2 separate regions of the Homo sapiens genome follow, and region 2 is linked to region 1. Evidence: fine-mapped expression QTL. A gene starts in region 1. The other region holds a variant in brackets. All regions are shown on one strand. Distances are from middle to middle. Region 1 holds the start of HMOX1 (heme oxygenase 1). Region 2 overlaps MCM5 (minichromosome maintenance complex component 5).

Region 1 (2,906 bases):
TTTTTGTTTTTTTTTTTTTTTGAGGGACAGCGTCTTGTTCTGTTGCCCAGGTTAGAATACAGTAGCGTGGTCACAGCTCACTCCAGCCTCTACATCCCAGGCTCAAGTGAACCTCCAGCCTCAGCCTCCCAAGTAGCTGGGACCACAGGCATGTGCCACCATGCCCAGCTAATTTATTTTATATTTTGTAGAGACAGGGTCTCCCTATGTTGCCCAGGCCAGTCTCGAACTCAAAGCAATCTTCCCACCTCGACTGGGCTCAAAGCGCTCTTCCCACCTCAACCTCCCAAAGTACTGGGACTACAGGTGTGAGCTACCATGCCAGGCCTGAAAGCCATCTTAAAAAAAAAATCTTAGAATGAGAATCACAGTATTGGGAAAGGACTGTATGAATCATCTGGTCCATTCGTTTTGTCCTCTGGGTTCACCCAGTGACCCTATTTCCCCCGAGTTCTAAGGAGTCCACCTCATGCAGAATTGATTCAATAGGCGATCAGCAAGGGCCAGCTCTGCTCTGGGCCCTGAGCAGGCACTGAGTATAAGTCAGACCTGAATGTGCCTGGAAGAGTGTCCCACGCATTCCAGCAGGGAAGCAGTTTGTATGACAGGTGTCCCAGTCCAGGCGGATACCAGGTGCTGCCAGAGTGTGGAGGAGGCAGGCGGGGACTTAGTCTCCTCCCTGGGTTTGGACACTGGCATCCTGCTTTATGTGTGACACCACTGCACCCCTCTGAGCCTCGGTTTCCCCATCTGTAAAATAGAAGCGATCTACCCTCACAGGTCAGTTGTAGGGATGAACCATGAAAATACTAGAGTCTCTGTTTTTTGACAGGAACTCAAAAAACAGATCCTAAATGTACATTTAAAGAGGGTGTGAGGAGGCAAGCAGTCAGCAGAGGATTCCAGCAGGTGACATTTTAGGGAGCTGGAGACAGCAGAGCCTGGGGTTGCTAAGTTCCTGATGTTGCCCACCAGGCTATTGCTCTGAGCAGCGCTGCCTCCCAGCTTTCTGGAACCTTCTGGGACGCCTGGGGTGCATCAAGTCCCAAGGGGACAGGGAGCAGAAGGGGGGGCTCTGGAAGGAGCAAAATCACACCCAGAGCCTGCAGCTTCTCAGATTTCCTTAAAGGTTTTGTGTGTGTGTGTGTGTGTGTGTGTGTGTGTATGTGTGTGTGTGTGTGTGTGTGTGTGTGTTTTCTCTAAAAGTCCTATGGCCAGACTTTGTTTCCCAAGGGTCATATGACTGCTCCTCTCCACCCCACACTGGCCCGGGGCGGGCTGGGCGCGGGCCCCTGCGGGTGTTGCAACGCCCGGCCAGAAAGTGGGCATCAGCTGTTCCGCCTGGCCCACGTGACCCGCCGAGCATAAATGTGACCGGCCGCGGCTCCGGCAGTCAACGCCTGCCTCCTCTCGAGCGTCCTCAGCGCAGCCGCCGCCCGCGGAGCCAGCACGAACGAGCCCAGCACCGGCCGGATGGAGCGTCCGCAACCCGACAGGCAAGCGCGGGGCGCGGGACGCGGGACGGGCGCCTTTCTCTCCCAACCCTGCTTGCGTCCTAGCCCCACCCCGGGACACTGCCACACAGCGACAGAGCCCAGGAGCCAGAAACTTGGGCTCTGGAGTCAGGAGGTGCGGGGTTCTGATCCTGCCTGTGCCCGTAGGGTAGTTGGAGGGAGGAACGGTAATTTACATGCCTGGCACCCTGGTATGCGGTTGGTGACCAAGATGGGAGTGTCCCTAGAGTATCCAGTCTTTGAGGTAGCCAATTTTTTTTTTAATCCTACTTTCGAGGTGTGTTTGGAGTTGCTCTCTGCTGAATCTAGATCTCTGGGGCTCTGCCAGCCTGGGGGAGCATGCTTGGTTCTCTTGGTGGCATCTGTCCCTCACTAGCTACGGAGGACCTGAGCCAGACATCACCCTGGCTGCGGTGTTCCATGTCTCACAGATAGCCCAGTTCAGGGAGGCGACATGCCCAAGAGTGCTCAGTTAGCTGGTGTCAGAACTGGGCCTTGAACCTTGGTCTGCCCACCTCCAGGTCTCACTCATTCCCTTCTTTCAATAATTTGTTAGTATTTTTTTTTTTAACTCCTGGGCTTAAGCATCCTCCCACCTCAGCCTCCAGAGTAGCTGGGACTTACAGACATGTGCCATTTCTCCTGAGACTTTGACCAGCTGTGTTGTAGAACAGGGAAGCAGGGCAGGAGAAAAGGGAAAAATGACAATTCTGTGGGGAGGCAGGGATACGGACCCATGACAGAAATACTCCCAGAAAGACTTTTTCTTTGACTAAAGCAGACTTTCTCAGGCTTTTTAACCCTGACGCCTTCATGATGAGCATAACATGATAGGGGGTCATGAGATTTGCATCTGGAACTTTAACAAAATAACTGAATTAAATATTGGGTCTAAAAGCCAATCAAAGCAATTACAAACTTGGAGATGCCGGTTCATGGGGCTGCTGCTTCTTCCTGGGTTATGCTGTACCTCCTCCTCCTCTCCACTGCGAACTACCTGTACCAGGATTTCCCCCTTGGTTTGGGGGACTGTATTATTTAGTGTTTTAATGACTGAAGAGTGTTTACAAAGCTGCGAGAGCCACCATGCCCAGCCTGAATTTGTTTTTTGTTTTTTGTTTTTTTGTTTTTTTGCTTTTTTGCTTTTCTTTTTTTGAGATGGAGTGTTGCTCTGTTGCCCAGGCTGGAGTGCAGTGGCGCGATCTCGGCTCACTGCAACCTCTGCCTCCTGGGTTCAAGCGATTCTCCTGCCTCAGCCTCCCAAGTAGTTGGGATTACAGGCGCCCACTACCATGCCCGGCTATTTTTTTTTTTTTTTTTGTATTTTTAGTAGAGATAGGGTTTCACCATGTTGGCCAGGCTGGGCTCAAACTCCTGGCCTCAGGTGATCTG
Region 2 (2,906 bases), 26 kb after region 1:
GGAGGCGGAGGTTGCAGTAAGCCGAGATCCTGCCATTGCACTCCAGCCTTGGCGACACAGCAAGACTCTGTCTCAAAAAAAAAAAAAGAAAAAAGAAAAAATATTACTGCCTTATTGTCCGGTGTGGGAATAGTCATTAAGATGGGGAAACTGAGGCTCAAAGAGAAGTGACCCAGACAGAAGACCACACAGCAGGTTTTGACAGAACTTGAACTAGAATGTGGGCCCCTGCCTCCCAGGTTTGTTCTGTGTTGTACTCTACAGGTCCAAGGATGTCGCCATCAGAGCTGGGGTCAGGTCTCTCTCCTGGCACCTGCCACTTTGTAGTGAAATGTGCTTAGTGTATCTCTTGCCCTGCCACCTCCCCCCCCAATTGTGCTGCGAGGTCTTTAAAAGCAGGAGCTGTGCCTGAGGCTCCTCTGAACCCCAGGGTCCAGATAGCCTGGCACTGGGTGGATGCTCTGGAAGCATTTTTTGAGCGGAACAGAAGAGCTGTGGCCCTCCCTGCAGCTCTGTGCCCACCTCCTCCAGGCTCCTGCCCAGGATATTTACTGGCATATCTCAGATGCGTCCTGGCTCCCCTTAACCAACAAGCTTCCCGATGGCTCTATTACAGTCGGACATGATGTCACACCTGGTGAAGATCCCTGGCATCATCATCGCGGCCTCTGCGGTCCGTGCCAAGGCCACCCGCATCTCTATCCAGTGCCGCAGCTGCCGCAACACCCTCACCAACATTGCCATGCGCCCTGGCCTCGAGGGCTATGCCCTGCCCAGGAAGTGCAACACGTGAGTCTGTGGCCCAGAGGGACTGTGGGAGGTGACCTGAGTGAAGATCAGAAAGGATGAGAACAAGTAGCAAGCACTGCCTGCAGCTGCTTCTAGAGATCCACTGGGATGGGCTGGGCAGGGGTGTGCCCTTAGGATTGGCACAGATCTGATGCCCTGTGGCTCTGAGACACCATGAACAGGGTCCCTCTACATTGGTGACTTCTGTCTCACCAGGATACCCAGACAGCGTTGTAGGGAACCCAGGGTTGGGAGGGAAAAGCAGTCCAGGGTAATGAGTCTACTTGGAATCTTCTGAAGCAAACTATGGTTTGCTCACTAGGCCAGATCTAGCCTGCTGACCCTATGGCCCAGGAACACGTTCGTTCATTTAAGTATTGCCC[AC/A]AGCTGGTTTCGCACTACAAAGGCAGGGTATGTGGCCTCTTGGCTGGCAGAACCTGGAATGCACATCCTCCGGCCCTTTCTAGAAAATGTTTGCTGCCCCCAGTCTGAAGGAACCCCACCCTCTTCACTGGCTGCTCTTTCTTGGCTCCTTCGCTGGTGCCTCCTCAGCTTCCCATCCACCTGTGGCACAGCTGCCTCATTCCATGCTGTTGACATCTCTCACTTGGAGAGGCACGCTACCTCCTCCCTGATCCCCCGCGTCCACCCTCCACCCCCTCAGTCTGTTTTCCACCCAGCAGCCAGGTGTCCCTTGACACTCAGGTGGTCCAGTCATTTACTTCTTAGTCAAGTCCTGCACAGCCCACCACGATCTGCTCCTGGCTTCCCCAGGCCTCGCTGCCCCTCCTCTCTCCAGGCCCGGCCTCACTGCCTCCTTCCTGTTTCTGGAATACACTGACTACCCCCAGTCTCACTGCCTTTGACCTTGCTGTTTCCTCTACTGGGAGTGCTGTTCCTCAAGCTACCATAGTCTGTGTCCTCACTTCTTCAGGCTTCTCTTCACATGTCCCCTTACCAGGGGCATCTTGCCCAACCCTTCATCTTCAGTTTGGTGTGCACGTACCTCGTCTCTCCCACACCTGCCTACTTTTTTACTTTTCTTCACAGCATGTAGCTGTCACTCTTTAATATGATTGTTTGCTTGTATGTCTTTTCAGCCTCCCTTGATAGGAACTTAGGCTCCACAAGAGCAGGGACCTTTTTGTTCAGTGCTGTGCCCCCTGCACCTGGAATAGTGTCAGACACATAGTAGGTTTTGCTATGATGTTTACTTCTTTATGTTGCTATAATATCTATTGAATAATGACATAATTACCTAGGGATACGTAGAGGCTTAGACCCTCAGAATGGTCTAGAACTGCCTAGAATCCCACTGGAAAAGATCTTGGGATTTGAGTGGGGCTTTAGTAAGAGAATTGATGAACTAGCTCTTCACCCATGAGGACACCATGATCCTGCAAGAAGACCGAGTGTGACCTGTCTGCCTCCTCTCAGCAAGTTAATGGAAGGACCCAGCCTCAAGCAGTTCCCTTGACTCTTAATCCAGTGCTAGGTCCGTCAGTGTTGCCTTCCTTTCTTACCTCCAGGCAGCGTTGCCTGCCTGGCTTATCTCCAGCTTATTCTGGAGACCCCCATAAATTGCCGCTGGCAACGTCTCCTTGCTGGCTCCTGGGATGAATGAGCCCTGCCTTTGGATTCTCCAGGTAGCTTTGGTGACTCTTTTCCCTTACCTTGTACAGAGATCAGGCTGGGCGCCCCAAATGCCCATTGGACCCGTACTTCATCATGCCCGACAAATGCAAATGCGTGGACTTCCAGACCCTGAAGCTGCAGGAGCTGCCTGATGCAGTCCCCCACGGGGAGATGCCCAGACACATGCAGCTCTACTGCGACAGGTGAGGCAGACGGGCTGGGAGGTGGGCATCTACGACGGTGGATGTCCCAGCTGTGGCCCTAACCCGAGTGTTGGGAGTGGGTCATCTGGAGCAGGGTGAGTAGGGTGGAGAAGGTGGCCAGTTGCAGAGCACCTGCTCTGTGCCTAATGCTTCCATAAGTTCCTCTCATCTCGTCTTTCCATAATCTGCAGGGGCATGTCAGCCCCATTTTGCAGATGAGGAAATGTAACTTGGAGAGATTAAATGACTTCCTGTGTGGAGGAGAGCCGGGCTTTCAGC

What was found. PIP is the estimated chance that this variant, and not a neighbour inherited with it, causes the effect. A credible set is the group of variants that fine-mapping cannot tell apart.
Region 2: its variant is the best candidate, but not a certain one, in a credible set for the expression of HMOX1 in whole blood (TOPMed, PIP 0.55).

Annotation. Positions count from the first base shown.
Region 1 is chr22:35,379,701-35,382,606 of GRCh38, forward strand. It overlaps HMOX1 (heme oxygenase 1), which reads left to right and starts at 1,396. Exons shown (of 5, transcript NM_002133.3): 1 at 1,396-1,496. The coding sequence starts at 1,474. RefSeq lists silencers at 1,117-1,196, 1,497-1,666.
Region 2 is chr22:35,405,937-35,408,842 of GRCh38, forward strand. It overlaps MCM5 (minichromosome maintenance complex component 5), which reads left to right. Exons shown (of 17, transcript NM_006739.4): 5 at 617-789; 6 at 2,472-2,627. Among named protein-coding and RNA genes, the nearest start is that of MCM5, 7.2 kb to the left of the region's middle. The variant AC/A (reference allele first, on the strand shown) is at 1,173.